Regions from separate parts of the Homo sapiens genome. Here region 1 is linked to region 2. A link means that fine-mapping ties the variant in region 2 to the expression of a gene that starts in the linked region. Tissue or cell type: whole blood. Region 2 holds a variant in brackets; the other region holds the start of a gene. All regions are shown on one strand. Distances are from middle to middle.

Evidence for each region. PIP is the estimated chance that this variant, and not a neighbour inherited with it, causes the effect.
Region 1: it holds the start of SPTBN1, and the variant in region 2 is fine-mapped to the expression of SPTBN1 in whole blood (TOPMed, PIP above 0.99).

Annotation. Positions count from the first base shown.
Region 1 is chr2:54,452,129-54,460,235 of GRCh38, reverse strand. It overlaps SPTBN1 (spectrin beta, non-erythrocytic 1), which reads right to left and starts at 3,909. Exons shown (of 36, transcript NM_003128.3): 1 at 3,718-3,909.
Region 2 is chr2:54,570,983-54,579,089 of GRCh38, reverse strand. All of the region lies in intron 2 of SPTBN1 (spectrin beta, non-erythrocytic 1), which reads right to left. Among named protein-coding and RNA genes, the nearest start is that of SPTBN1-AS1, 16 kb to the right of the region's middle. RefSeq lists silencers at 4,303-4,362, 4,433-4,592. The variant T/C (reference allele first, on the strand shown) is at 3,959.

The DNA.
Region 1 (8,107 bases), 120 kb after region 2:
TCCCTTTGCTGAAGGAACAGAATAGAGTTTCTTCATTTAATGTGCATACAACTCACTTAAAGGTCTTGTTAAAATGTTGATTCCGATTGGCTGAGTTCAGAGTGGGGCCTAAGAATCTGCATTTGCAACAAGCTTCCAGGCGATTCTAATGTTGAAGGTCCGTGAACCTCACTATGATAGCAAAGGACATTATGAAAATGCCTTCTCCAGAGATGTTTAAAAATAGAAACACAGGTATATCTAATTGGTGTAATTTCCTTTAACCACTGAGTAGAAAAAAATAGATGATGTTATTCCCACACAATAAAAATTTAAATATAATTACAAGTGCTACCGGAAAAATCAGAGTACTAAACTAGGTCTTTTGCAAAGAAAAGATGCCCTGAGAAAAAGCAAAGACTGAAAATTTACAAGAAAAACCCATGAGATGCTTTACTCACTTCCACAGACCTACAAAGTTCACTCTTCTAACAGGGGTAGTTAGCCCCTTCCTTCTGGAAGAATGGTTTGCATTTCCAATAATGTAGTGAAAGAAACTACGGCTGCCATTAAATAAAGCCCAATTATAATGAAGATACTAGTTACGATGCAACATAATTAAAGGAGCATCATGTCATTGCACGTAAAAAAAATTAGGCTTTAAAATGTTCTATAAGAATATGCTATTAAAAAGAAAAGCTTAAAATTATTTCGACAAAATCCACACTGAATGATTTCCACTAATCATGTCTATGTTAGCAGTAGTAAAATCCTTCCACGTCAAAATAGTACTTCCACATGTAAAGTCATACATTCAAACATCAAGACAAAGCAACCACTCTACAAACCCTTCCAGGAAACTCTGCCAATGCCAAGCCTCTGCTCAGGATGTGTCACAAGTAGAGGGAGGTCTTCTCATTTGCTCTGCAACATCACAGATAGTTGTTACTAGTCTTGCCCAAGAGAAGTTCTTCACAGAAAACCTCAACTGTGGGAGACGACCTAGTGACAGCAGTTCCTTCACTGCCCAATACTTCTCCTCTCAGATGAAGGTTTTGGTCACTCCAGTAATGACAGAGTTACAAAGAGCTTAACCCAACAGAATTCTGCACCTGCTGTGTAAGTCAGAACAGCTAAACCTCCTGTGACATCAACACAGGATATTTCTTACAACAAAGTAAATCCAAAACGTTTGGATGATCCATGGGAACAACATTCATAAAAATCTGTACGCAACACGATTTTACACAACCAGCACAAAAAGTCTCATATTTTAATGGCTATTAGAGAAACTCAAAATAACGCACATACACCACACAATGTACATGCAGTTCTATTCTGCAGAGCCACATGAAATCAAAAGCAACTAACTTGGATTCATTAGAAATATTTAAAAATACAAGCAGGCACGCCCTTGGCTTGTAAACACTGACCTTCCCTTCCAACTAGCATATTGAAATTTCCTTTTTCACCTAAACATTTTAGGAAAGCCTGGGTTGACATTTGAAATATATCCCATTTGCCATCCCACACTGAATAATGAATTATAGAGATGGCATTTAGAAGGGAAATTCCCTGTGTCCTGGCCGAGACTAAACATGAGAACACTGGGAACCATCTCCTTCTGACTAGATGCCAGTCAAGAGGCCTTGGTGGTCTGCCCTTCTCCACCCTCTCCCCAGTCACAGCTGTGAAAAATATGTATACAAAAAATACATATAAACAAACACAAACGCAGTGTTACTGTCATAATCCCATTAATTACGCCCGGACACTTAACTTGGCTACCTCAATCAATAGAAATCTGAATACCAATTTAGCCCCCATCATGACACTCATACACCTAATAATCCTTAATAAAGCATCCAAATAATGCAACTGTACTTGACTTAGAAAAAGCAAACGATGAAAACAAAATACAAGCTAAAGGAATCATTTACTATCCATTAAAAAACATATAAATTCCTTTTAAAACAACCTACTGAATTTTAATATACTTATAAATGTCTTAGTGACATAAAACCCAAAATGCATTAATCATTTCATTTAAAAATGGTTTCCTACAGAAAAAATGCATACTTGGTATTAACCAAAGACAGACGAGGTACTGTAATGTCACAGTTGTGAAGGTCCAATTAATAAACACCAACTTTTCACGTAGAAAAAATTAATGCATAGCTGGGTTGTGGTTACAGATTATGGACGATCCACAGAAAAACGCTGCGACTCCCCACACTGCAACATTGCCTCCGCACACCACTGGGCCCAGTCCTTCCTGCAGCCCCTCCCTATGGCTCAGGTCCCCTGGTCGCAGATCAGATTCCGATCCGCAACCACAGGCCGGCTCCCCTCTGCCTGCACTGGTGATGCAGGGCGCCCCTCCGGCAGAGCGCAGCCCAAGAAGAGGTGCAGGAGGGATCATCCCAAAAGAAAAGACTCTCCCCTGCTCACACCTAGCTGACCTGGTCCTCCTGACGCCACATCCAGCAGAAGCTGCAGGACAAGGTAGCAGCAGCTCCAGGCCTCGGCCAAGGGCAGCCCCGGGCCTGGGTGGGGCCGGGCGGGGGCCGCAGGCGCCGAGCGGCCGTGCCAAGCCCCGCCAGCGAGAACCAAGGAAGCTGCGATACTGCTGCATTGTGCTGCATCACGGCGAGGGCACCGTGAGCCATCCATCTTGCCAAAAAAGCACATCCCCGCCCAAATAAACCCCACCGAATTCAATTTTCTGCTCCGCCGAAGCACCCCCACACGCACCCTGTCCTCACTTACTATCTGGCCTGGCTTTCGATTGGAAAAATAATGGACAGAGGTTTGCGTTCTGATCCCCACCCCCTCCTCATCTGATGGCAGCAGTTGGCACCTTTCCTATCACAAAAACAAAGAGAAGGCGCCCCCTAAAAGAGGGCCGTGGGCGTGGTGTGGGGGGTGATGACGAGCCAGCCCACCTACCCAAAGCAGGCCCGGAGGGTCCCTGCGCTGAGACAAACCTGTTGAAGAGAGGGTGGCAGGAGCTGAAGGGCGGGCGCAGCGGCGGCTCGGCGCCCGGAGGCGGCTCACGCCCAGCCCTGGGAGAGTGGGGACGGCAGAAAGGGCGGGGGGGGGGCGGGCGCACGAGGGTAGCAAGCGCAGGGATGGGGCGGAGGTGGGGGCGCGGGGCCGCCGCCTCCGGCTCAGCTGCAGCGCGGCGCAGCCGGGACCACGCCTGGCCGCATCCCCTGCACCGCTACGCGCAGAGCCCGGCCCTGTCACCGCCGCCCCCGCTCCCCACCCGCGGGGCCACAGAGAGGGCACCTGAAAATAGACCCTCCGGCTGTCCGCTGTCCGCTCCGCACCCACCTCCGCGCCAGGGGCCTCCGCGTCAGGGGCCGCCGCGCCCGGCTGCAGGGAGGCGCCGGCGGAGGCAGGGAGGAGGAATCGCCGCGCCGCGCCGGGGCTGGGGCCGGACGGCAGCGGTGCGCACGGCGGGTCTGCTGCCGCCTCACCGCAGAGCCTGCCGCCCCTCGTCCCGCATCATCCGAGTACCAATGAGCACCCGCGACCCGGGCTCCCCGCGCCGCCCCCGCCCGGGCTTTGCAGCCTCCCTGCCCCCACGCGGCTCCCCGGGCGCAGGGCAGGCGGGCAGCGGCGTCCTCCGGCCCTGGGCCCGCGCCCCTCCTCCCGCCCGTCCGCCGCCGCGGAGCCCACCCGGGAGGCAGCCCCAGTGAGTTGGCATCTCCCTGCCTCGGGCCCCCTACCTACCTCCCGGGGATGGGGTGGGGGCGCCGGGGTCCCGTCCTCCTCCCGCTCCTCGGCGGCCGGGCGGGTGGGCCGGGAGGCGACTCCGCGGGTCTGTCCGCGGCTGGGGCCGGGGCTCACAGGACGGGACCAGTGGGCGCTGCTGCGCAGGGCTGCGCGCTCGCTCCGGGAGGAGAGGCGGCCGAGGGAGGGACTGGAGGAATCCGCAGCCTGCACGGCAACAGCGGCACTGATTCCGGGGGCTGGGCGGGAGCGCGGGGGGCGGGGGGAGGAGGAGAGGAGGGCGCTCGCAGGGAGGGGGCGAGGGGCGGGGAGAGGAGCGCGCGGGGCGGGCGCGCGCGCACACACACACAAGCGCACTCCCGGGATCCCTCCCGCACGCCCTCCGCCCTCCGCACTCCTCCCTCCCCACTCCCGCCCGCTCCCTCTGCTTCGCCCGCCCTCTCCTCCTGCCCGGAGCCCCGCAGCCGCCCAGGGAGCCGAGCCTCGGGCGCGTCCACGTCCTCTCCAGCTGAGGCTCTTCCCGGGTCCAGCCCGGACCTCATCCTCCCAGCGGCGGGGACCGACCAGGCTGGCCGGGGCGGGGTGGGCACTGCTGCTGCCGCTACCCGAGCAGGACAATAGGGGCTTTGTCTCCACAGCCGGAGAGGGCCAATTTCACGTTTAATTTGAGGCTAATTCGATTATCGCCATGGAAAGAGGCGGTCTAATTTTCTACGTGATTTGTGCAGCCTCTTTTCGCCCTTGATGTTGCGTTCGGAATGCTGGGGAGAGAGGGTATTTAGGGAGGTTTTGGAGCGTCACTTGCTTGGTTGGTTTGAGATGCAGTTGGTGATGCCTTATAGGTTCTACCCAACTTGGAGAAGGGCGACGGCGACCTCTTCGTGGGAAACCTTGGGCGCTGGAGGATGGGTGGTGGGGGTCGTTCCTTGTGAGGTTAATGTATTCTTTTGCAAATGCTTTTTCGCCCACCCTTTCGCTTTGGGTAGCTGGGAGCAGACCCTACAAGTGGTTCATCCAACTCCTGCCTCTCAGTGCAGGCTCCGCTCGAACCTGAGGCCAGGTGCCCTGCCCCAGTCACTCCCGAGAGAGGGGTCGTCCGGCCGCGGTGGAGGGCCCCGTGATGGCGTGGGGACTTGCGTTTTCCCCTATGCGCATTCCCTGAAACGGAAACTGGACGTTTCCTCAAATTTTTGTCATGTGCCACTGCCCCTTCCCAGTCACCTGGTCTACCCCGTCAGCCCCTCAGGCTGTGTAGAAATTCCAGAACCGTCACTGTTGTGAAGAAAAGATGGTGGAATCACCAGGACCACGAATGGAAACGCTCTTTAGAAAAGCAGTTTGAAGAAACTGACTTTCTCCTTGTTCTGTAAAGTGCACAGGGCGGCACTGCGGGCATTCAGAGGGAGGAGGGCCCTTCCTGTTTGAAAAAGCCCCAGGGCTTTTTCCCCATACAGACCTGATCACCTGGATTAAAATAAAACAAAAATACACGGCAGCCAAGTAGTTTGTATCATGCTTATATCTCAGATCACTAGAACCTGGCCTGATGGGTTTATATGTTTGTATGTATTTTTAAATGAATATTTTAAAATAAAACTCAGTGAAATCGTCACAGCAAACTGAAGATGATTCTTCCTTTTAGGCCTTCATAGGTTTGAATGTTTGAACCTATGTTTACTTTTGATAGGAAAAAAATTGAGGAAAGCAAATAACATTTTTTCTCAGAAGGTGAATCAACACAACCAGACCGTAAACTCTCTTAAAGGTAGGGTTATTTCTTTCTTCACTCTGTACATATAGCAGGCACTTAGGTACTAAAACAAATTTGTTGAATTGAACACAATCAACTTGTAAGCTGCTGCCCTCATTAGGTAATAAGGGAAATCCACTAGAAAGCAAAGTTGTTTGCCTTTCACTTACTTATTTTTTTACCATGGACCCCAGCACCTCCCCACTCACAATGTTAATGAAATACCAAAGAAAACAGTAACAATATTGGGAAGTGCATCCATTTAAATTAATTCTTCCAGTGTTATTCTGAAATGGTTATTCCTTTATCACAGACAACGGTATTTAAATAAATTTTCATTTGATGAATGATTCACCTCCCTTACCCCATTCCACTCCCACTTACGTTGTTTTTTAATTAAAAAAAAAAAAAAGGCCACACACACCTTAGCAAGGTACTCTAGTAAAGCCCCAGTAATTATTCCAAAAATGTGAAAGACAAGGATTCAGAGTTCTACTGTAAATACCTGCATCACAATTTTGAATTCTTACCCTTAGGTGCAAAAAATCACCCTAGAGAACTCAGTGTACCAACGACCAAAAAGAAGTAACAATTCAAAGAAAAGATAGTACAACTGGAAAGATTATTGGAGAAGACATTTTTATGGAAGGCAAAATCTAAAAAAGATAAAAAGTCTTAGGCAGTGATAACAGCTCAGAAGGATTATTCCCATGTATCTCAGAAGCGGCTTAGTTTCTTCTCATATTAGAATCAGGGTTGATATAAAGGAACCTAGAAGTCTTCAATATCATGTTTGTAACATACTACTCTCCACTTTTAAAACCATGTGATTGCATATGGCTTTATCTCCCATCAAAATACTTTATTACAAAATTTTTACAGATATAAATTGTCATTTTAACTTTCCATTCAGAATGTAGGGGAAGGCTGGGCACGGTGGCTCATGCCTGTAATCCCAGCACTTTGAGAGGCTGAAGTGGGTGGATCACCTGAGGTCAGGAGTTCAAGACCAGCCTGGCCAACATGGCGAAACCCCGTCTCTACTAAAAATACAAAAATTAGCCGGGCATGGTGAGACACGCCTATAGTCCCAGGTACTCTGGAGGCTGGGGCAGGAGAATCACTTGAACCTGGAAGGCGGAGGTTGCAGTGAGCCGAGATCGCACCACTGCATTCCAGCCTGGGTGACAGAGCGAGACTCTGTCTCAAAAAATAAAATAAAATAAAATAAAATAAAAAGGTATTGATAAACAGTATTGTCTACTACAACCTGTTTTGTTTAGAAAAGAGAATGATACTCTAAGTATTTCCTTGGTTATATTATATTAACCCAATTGAACTCATCTTTTATTGTACTGATAATAGCCCAAAACTTTAAAATCAGAACATATTTTGAAAACTTGCATATATTTTTAAAATTCCTGTTTACTCCTAAACTTGCTTCCTTTTAACTCTGAACTAGTCTGGGAAATTTCCTCATATTTAAAATATATTTCATTTGGGAATTCACATGTATTAATTTTGCACTGGGAAAACCTAAAGACTTATATGTAAACTATCATTATGAATGAATTTTTTAAAGCACTAATAACATATTTACTCTTGCATAAAGTAATTTATTCTTTCATTATTCAAGAGATAGATATGCCTTATATTCTTCTCGGCTCTGAAATAGAGCAATGGGTAAAATAATTTTAAAAAATCATTGCTTTCATGGATCTTCCATTCTAGTAGATTATATCTAGTATTCCATTCTAGATATAATCAATCAATAAAAAAGTAAAAGATATGTGTAATGATAAATCTGAATAGATGGTAACCTAAATGTATAACAATATTTATAAAATGATCACAATAAATGGTCTCAGCTTTCTATAAAAGATCTTCACATTTTCTATGTTAATAATAATAATGATTATAAGTAGCAACCATAAAATGTTTTCCAGTTTTTAAAATGCTTTATCAAATATTATCTTATTTTGTCCTTTTGCCAGTTCTGTGAGGTAAATATTAACCCCATTCTGTGGATGACCAAATGGTCAAATGAGTTGCCCAAGTTCTCACAGCTAGTTAAGTGCCAGAGATATCTTAGGAGCTAGCATATCAGAGCTGTATGCCTGGGCATTGCATATGAATTACTCAACATAACTCTATTTTGCAAGATGGAAGAAAGTTCTAGAGATGGATGGTAGTGATGGTTCCACAACGATGTACACGTACATAATGCCACTAAACTGTATGAAAATGGTTAAAATGGTAAGTTTTACGTTGTGCGTATGTTACTTTTTTTAACCATTCAGAAAATTCTTTTGGGTTTTTTTTTAACTTTTATTTTGGGTTTGGAGTATATATGTAGGTTTGTAAACAGGTAAACTTGTGCCACAGGGGTTTGTTATACTTATTAATTCATCACCCAGGTACTAAGCCTATTACTCAATAGTCATTTTTTCTGATTCTCTTCCCTCCTCCCAACCTCCACCCTAGAGTAGGCCCCAGTGTCTATTGTTCCCATGTTTGTGTCTGTGTGTTATCATCATTTACCTCCTTCTTATAAGTGAGTACATGCGCTATTTGGTTTTCTCTTCCTGTATTAGTTTGCTAAGGATGACAGCCTCCAGCTCCATCCATGTTTCTGCAAAG
Region 2 (8,107 bases):
TAGTTTTGTCATTACTTTTAATTGCAAAAGCCACAATTACTTTTGCACCAGCCTAATACATTCATACCAGAGGGCTTCTCTATAGCACCCTCAAAAGAAAATTTCTTGGGAAAAATGGTGACATGGCACCTTTCAGTCTAGCAGTGTTAGGCATTCCTAAGAAAGATACTCAGATTTCTCCTGGACAGAGAGGGCATAGAAGAGAACAAACCCAGCATTCACCAACCCAACAATCCTATTAGGAATCTTATGATTCTGGACTCTTGAAGTGGCAGAAGTAGCATCATACACACACACATCAGAATTATCATCACACACACACACACACACACACACACACCCCATCAGAAGACACTTGCCTAGGCCAAATTAAATCATTTCTGGAAGTGGGCAGGGTATAAATAATAAATATAAATAACTTGCCTCACTGATGCCAAATATAGATCATAATGAATGGGAACAAAATCAAGTTTGTGGTTTTAGGATACAAGTAAGGCTGAACACGTAAGGATGAACTCTTAGAAACAGTTTTTATATCTGCTATGGGGAAACTCAAAAGGTGGCCTGAAAACACAATGCAAATCGCAGCTGGAAGTCTTCACTTATACTTGGCAGCAGCAGCAGCAGCAGCAGCTAACCGGAAACAGGGATTATCCATTTTATTCACACAGGGACATCACAGAACAAAAGGCTAACACTTAGCCCAAAAACACCAACAAACACTCAACCAGTCGAAAATATTTAAAGTCAAGAAAAATCAGCAATCTCCAATAATCTGAACTTCAGATGTGGTTTCCTGGCCTAACTCCATGTTTCTGGGTAATGCCATCACCTTTGAACATTGCTCCAAGGTTATTCTCTGTGTAGCAAATGCTCAACGATGCAGCAGTGAACACTGTACTTTTAAATCCAAGATTCTACTTCAGTGCCAGTACAGTTTATTCCAGGTTCTCACGGGTACATTACAAATAATTTCATATACTGGGAAAATACAGATCAAGAGAGTCTGTACTGTCAGCTGAGTCCTTTATAGTCTGGAATCTCCAAAGTACCATCAAAGAAAAGGGAATAAAGTCCTCCAAGATAAGGCAAGGCTTGAATTTTACATGGCATTCACCATGCTGCTCCTTGTTACCATCACCAATGAAGAGTGAGAGTCTCAGCAAATCCTTTAAGATTGAAAAAAGGATCAGGAATTTCTACCTCTCAACAACTGCTTTCACTAAATCAAGGTTGCCCAGGGTCCTAACAAAATCCTAATGTGGGATCTACAAAAGCACCAGGTGAAAAATGCTCAACAGGCAGCACAGCAAGATGGTTAAAAATTGAGTCCCAAAGCGCACTGCGTGGGTTGGAATCCTGGCTCCATTTACTAGTTAAGTGTCCTTGGGCACAGCTTCCTTTGTGCCTCAGTTTCCTCATCTTCAAAATGGAAATAACACATCACACAAGGACGCTATGAGGAGCATATGAATCAATACTGCAAAGTACTTAGGACAATGCCTGCACAAGGGGAGTATCAAGAAGTTTTGGTGGCTATTACCATTATCAGTACCACCACCAATACAGGGCTAGACTTTAGGTAGGGACCTACTTTCCTTCTCTCTTTGCATGAGAATCCATATACCTTTTCTTTTGCTTTCCCTCTCCTTTGTAGCTTGTTAGGTTTCCCACAGGACTGATTTTGTGAGCTCAAAGCATGAGAAGCCAAAAATGCTTAATGTTTTGGCAGTGGGCATCTACCCAGAAGAGCCTTGGGGGAGCACATTCGGTAAAATGAAAGTGACCAGAGTAAACGGCCATGCATTTATTTGCAGGGGCCTTCAAATCTGTATCAGACAATCTACAACCCTAACAGGTTAGAGAACTGAAATGCAAGTCACTTGTCCAAGGTCATTTAACCAACATCAGCTGCTAAGCAGCACCTGATTCCCGGGACCTGTGCCAAGATTAGCTGGCTGTTGGCTAACAAAAAGGAGGCAAAACCCCCAACTAATAATAAGCATTAACAAATGAAATGGAAGGGGAAAAAAAACTTGCATGATGTCCCAAGTAGAATTCTAGCCATTCCCCAACATCCTCCATGGTTTCATGACTCCCTCTGTACACCCCTACCCCCAAGCACCCATCATCTCATAATCTAATCCAGGTCATATTTAAAAACTTGCAATCAATGTCAATTCCTCCAAAATGCTTCCCCCACATCCCAGGACCAAGGAATGATATTTGCATGTTTGGGATCACTTACCTAGTATTCCCTTTCAGAATGTAATTTGAGACCGTGGCTGTCCCTTACACACCTGTGTTTCCAGTGTGCTCAGCACTGTAAGCTGCTCACCTTGACACCCACTTGCTGGCTGAATATTGATTGAACAGGTGGATGGATTTGATGGCTCCCTCAGTGATCTTCAAGCTAAAAATGGGTTCTAAAAAGTCATCCTGCCTTCTTCCACGGCACTTATTCTTGGCTAATTAAGAGGTACATGCTACTCCATTCTCACAGCCAGGCAGCTGTGGCGCATCAACTAGAGCGTATAAGCAACGGCCTTCCAGGATTTGTCAGTTGAGTTTTGAGTACAAGTTCTAGAAAGTACTACTTCTTCAAAGTATAGAGTAAAAAAAAAATTGAAGTAACAGAGCCAACAGCTGTTTTCCTGGACCTACACATACCTGACATCAACGTTCCAGCTTTAAGTTATTAATTAGGCCAAAGCAATAGCAGAAAGAAGAGCTGAAGGCCGGGCGCGGTGGCTCACACCTGTAATCCCAACACTTTGGGAGGCCGAGGTGGGTGGATCACCTGAGGTTAGGAGTTTAAGACTAGCCTGGCCAACATGGTAAAACCCTGTCTCTACTAAAATACAAACATTAGCCGGGAGTGGTGGCAGGCACCCGTAATCCCAGCTACTGGGGAGGCTGAGGCAGGAGAAACGCTTGAACCCAGGAGGCAGAGGTTGCAGTGAGCCGAGATCGCACCATTGCACTCCAGCCTGGGAGACACAGCCAGACTGTCTCTCAAAAAAAAAAAAAAAAAGCTGGATCTGAGTGACAAAAGGAAAAAAACACAGACCATTACCATCATCCACCTCTCTCCCTATCCCTGCTACCATAACCTAAACTGTACCAAAGTCTGGGCCCTGCTTTAACCACTCATCCAACCATGTTTCTCGTACTACAGGTTAATTCCTGTCTCAGGAGAAAAGACCAGGTTCCCATGACTGCCTAGGCAGAGGCATGTTGAGACCCAGCCTCTCAAATGTCTGTACACATTTCTCCTCTCCTTTTGGTTGAGAAGTTTGTGGACAGATTCAAAGGAGTTCCCGATACATCGAAACTGAGCCTTCACGCCACTGAGTCACTGCTTAATTGCATCATAACAGATGTTCAGCTGCAGGTATTTCATCCAGCAGCTAAAAATCCAGAGCCTTTGCAATTGCTACCAGTGGGTCTACATCCACGTCTCTGTGTACAAAAGAATCCTGATATGTCAACGCTCAATATCACCTGAATTTAAGCTATGGCTCAAGTTAAATGCCCTTAGGCAATTTTACCTTAGTTACTTTTACCAAATACCGTATCCACAAGTGGGTGGACGTCAGTTTTGTCCTTCGAGATATGCAGATGCATTACTCATCCCTCCAATGTTACGCTCTTGCAACATCAATGATAAGCAAATTAGCAGACTGTTATCTTTTTAATGGAAGAATTTACTCATCAATAGCAAAAGCTTTATCAGAAATTGACATTATTGAATCCTCTGGAGTTGCAGAAAAGAAAATAAAAAGAAATTGATATTGGGAAAACCTGACTGGTTTCTTTCAGCTGTGTATTGTATTGCTAGGTTAGGTGTGACACTTAACACCTGTGAATGTGGCTGAATCTCCAAGAATGATCAAATACACAACGCTCTGGATTTAAAACAAAACAAAAAAAACCTCAAAATCTACCCATGTGCTGA[T/C]GGATGTATACACTATGCCTTCCTACGTGTCTCCACCTATTTAGACGAAGCACACGCCTTGAATTCACAGAAATGTTGAAAACGGCCCCCTCTTGCTGCAGAAGTTCACCATCACCCATTTTCTTACTTGCTGGCTAAATGAGGCTGCCACCTCAAGTCATCTTTCTGGTCCTCAGGTTCCTCAATCCACAAAGCAGTTATGATACCACCTAGCACACAGGGTGACTGAAGGGATAAATAATATGTTCATGAAGGTACCTGGTTTATGCCTGGTTCATGCTGGAAAGCCCCCACACACTTTTTCAAAAAGTCATGTTTGATGCAGGAGAAAGAAGTCAGTGGTTTAACTAACTACATCACAGGCATCAGTAGACACATGAGCAAAGTGGTGGAAGGGTGTGACCTGCAATTCCAAACCAGACTGCACTGATCGAGCTCTCATGGGATCACTGATTCCCCACGTGCCTGACATGAGCATGACCCATTCTAAACACAGGCCTGCACCCTGTGACTCAAGTGCTGCAGCTTATCAGCAACTGATGGGCTTTCTGACCCTGGGTGAGAAGACCTGACCTCCAAAGGCAGGAGGAAGGAAACCACATGATAAAAATCATCACTCTGAGGGGAGGATGCTTTCTGCGCAGCTAGGGCTAAGGAAGTTGTTTCAAAACAGACTCAAGAAACGTGTAGGCTGCTGCTAGGAGACTTGGGTCCAACTGCTCCCTCCAGATCCTGCCACACCTAAATGATCCCAAGAAGATAACTATCTCGGAGAAGCAGTGTGAGGTAATGGTTTAATGCTAGGGCGTGGTCAACAGCCAGGTGCAAAGGCCGGCTCCGCCACACTAATAACTGTATGGCATTCTCTCCAAGCCTTGCTTTCCTCATCTGTAAACAGAGATAACGCCTGACCCTATCTCTAGCATTCTTCTGATTGTGAAATTAGATAATGTATGTCATAAATAGCACAGTCTGGTACATAAGTGTCCAATAAATGTTGGCTATTGTTACTGGAAAGGTGTCTGTTTCCTTCATTAGACCAGTTGAGGGGACCTGAGAACAAAGACAACCCCAACATTTGTGTCCCCCCACAAAAATTTCTTAGATTTAATTATGAGTTTGTATTTTCCATACGGGGTTCATGCACATTATTCTAACTGATTCTCACAGCAACCCCAGAGGAGAAGGGAGGGCTGGTGTTCTGTTTTGCAGGTGTACAAAGCACCCCCCTCCCATAAATACATCCATTCAAATCCCATTAGAAAAACAGGATCCGTTTTCCTGTCTCTTGACTTGTTTGTGAGCTTCCTGAGGGCAGAGATAGAAATTACACCCCTGTGGCCCTAGTGCCTGAGCAAAGAGCCGCAGGCAGAGGCCCTCCATAAGGCTGAATATTAAAAAGGGGTTGAGTCATACTAAGAATCATAATTATTCTAATGACCATGTCTCCTAGTAGTCCAAAAGGAGTTCTGTTTCTAACGCAGAAAACCTTAGCAAATGAGTTACACTGTGAATTCCCGCTGAGGGAGGAGGAACAAAGACAGAGGATCCCAAATCAACTGCTGAATCACCGAGTCAGGGGTCCCCAACCCCCAGGTCACAGACCGGTATTGGTCCTGGCCCGTGACCTATTAGGAACCGGCCACACAGCAGGAGGTGAGTGGTGGATGGGAAGCATTACTGCCTGAGCTCTGCCTCCTGTCAGATCAGCAGCAGCATTCTCACAGGAGCCAAACCCTATCATGAACTGTGCATGCAAAGGATCTAGGTTACCACTCCTTAATAAGAATCTAATGCCTGATGATCTGAGGTGGAAGAGTTTCATCACGAAACCAACTCCCCATTTCCTCCACCCTATCTGTGGAAAAATTGTCTTCTACAAAACCAGTCCCTGGTGCCAAAAAGGCTGGGGACCGCTTTACTAAGTGACCTGTGCATCACTTTCCTCTTCCAGAAACATGGAGCAGAACAGCTACTCCTTATAAGCAAAGAGGGAGCAAAGATCAATGACATAATTCACATCTGCAGACAACTATGAGCTCACAGGAAACTGAGGTAAGAAAGGTCATTTCAGAGTCATTTAATGACAACAATGGCTGAGATGAGTATCTGGTGGGGTCTGGGCCCGCCTTCTCATCTGATTCCCAGCACGCTGTGGCAAACACAAAGGCAGTCAGCTTCTAGAGCCCCTTCCCACTCACACTGCTCCTGGGCCGTGGGTCACACTGCTCTAGTGCCCTTCCCTCAACTCCAGCCCTCTCCCTTTCCAAAAACCCATCTGAATTTACTACCCTGATAAAGACTGCAAGTGTATGGTTCTGTAGCCAAGAACTCCTAGTCAAACTGGCTACAGTCAAGCCCACTGCTGAACGAGTATGACTTTTAAAAATTGCTTCCTTGTGTTTCAAGTGAAAAAAATAACATCCCACCTCCAAATTGAAATCATATATGTATATTTGTAGAGGAAAAACAAAGATTTTTTGTAAAGGGGGGCAGAGATTGGGAGGCACAAAGGGCTGGGAAAGTAGTTCATGGGCCAAAAGCAGTTTTCTTTCAGATATGTCTTCAGTTTAAAAGACCAAGTTTGCACATTCGTGTGCTATCTAAGTTTCTGAAGCCCAGCCTCTATTTGCTCAGAGTGTGATTTAACTGCCTGGCTTCTAGCAAAGCATTACTCACACTGTTATCTCTGTAAACAAAGACACTCGCGGTTAGAAAAGCTGTGTTCGTTTTATGGTCACACAACATAAAAATCTGAATAAGCTGCCACACCTAGAAGAATGGATAGATTTCAATTTCCCAGGGTACATTTTTAACATTTTTTTGCTATGTAACCTGATTACATTAGTGTAAATGCATCTTAAAACTTTATCCTGGTCCAAATATTCTTGCCCCATCTCATTCAAAAGAAAGGGGGGAAAAAGACAATGTGATGTCTAATTTCTAGGGGAACTGTTTCTGTCTCCCTAAGTACCTTAGTACCGTGGCTTCCCTCTCCTCTCCTCTTCTCCTCACCAAAGTTTAGTAAATTCCCCAGCACCCAGCAGAGTCCTAGGGAGTATGTGAGAGTCCAACCACAAGAGTTCCCTAAATTTGAGCTTTAAGGGGATGAGGGGAGGTTGTCACTAGGGTCATATTAAACTTCATTTTATCAAAAAAAGTAGATAGGCCCAGCCTAAGCCCTTCCTGGAGTTTTAGTTTAGCCACATCATGGACAAAATTATTTTCATGATGTATTCTTTCATTCAAGACATCATTTATTAAGTGGCTCTTTTCTCAGGGAAGAGGCCCCTGGAAGGAAAACCAGCTAAATCACTTTAAAACATATGCATTACTGCTTATATTACTTTACCTACTCATTCATCCCTTTATTCATGAAACATTTATTTGTATGCCATCCCTAAGAAGGAATACAGAGATACACGCAAACACACTAACACACTATCCTCCTGGGAGTTCACAAATACCCACTGAGTATCAGGTACACAGTAATAGGCAGCCAGCTTCCAGAAGCCCTTTATTTATAGATATGTGTGTGTGTGTGTGTGTGTGTGTATGTGTGTGTGTGTGTGTGTGTGTGTGTGTACATACAATTAGGGAACAGTAATAGGTATCTTCATATATAACTGGGGGACTCACCACCCAGTGTGCCTGGGACTGAGGAAGATTCCCCGGATGTGGAATGTTTGGCACTAAAACCGGAAAACTCCCTGGCAAACGGTGAACTCGTCATCCTCTTAATACAATTATAACATACCTAATTAGGCTTTACAATCACCCCAAGGGCTATTTATTCTTTCCCCCTGAAGAAAATGAGGCTCAGTGAAGTCACTGGTAGAGCTAGGATTTGACTGTTGGTTTATGCAAATCCACGGCCCATGTGTTTCCCACCACCCTTGTTTCTGAAATGAGAGAGAAAACGTCCCACAGCCCTTGACAGGCACGCCAAACCACCACTACAATGTTCTGAGCCACTTCCCTTCCACTGCTCTCCTGACCACCCCCACCACTCTTCACCGCAGACTTCCCACAGCCAGGATTTCATCTGCTTGGCAGTTGTTTGCAGATAGTGTGTAATCTCTCTGTCATTGCAAGACTGAATTGTACAGCAAGTCGTTTAAACCTTTATAGGAATAAACGTCTCCCTCA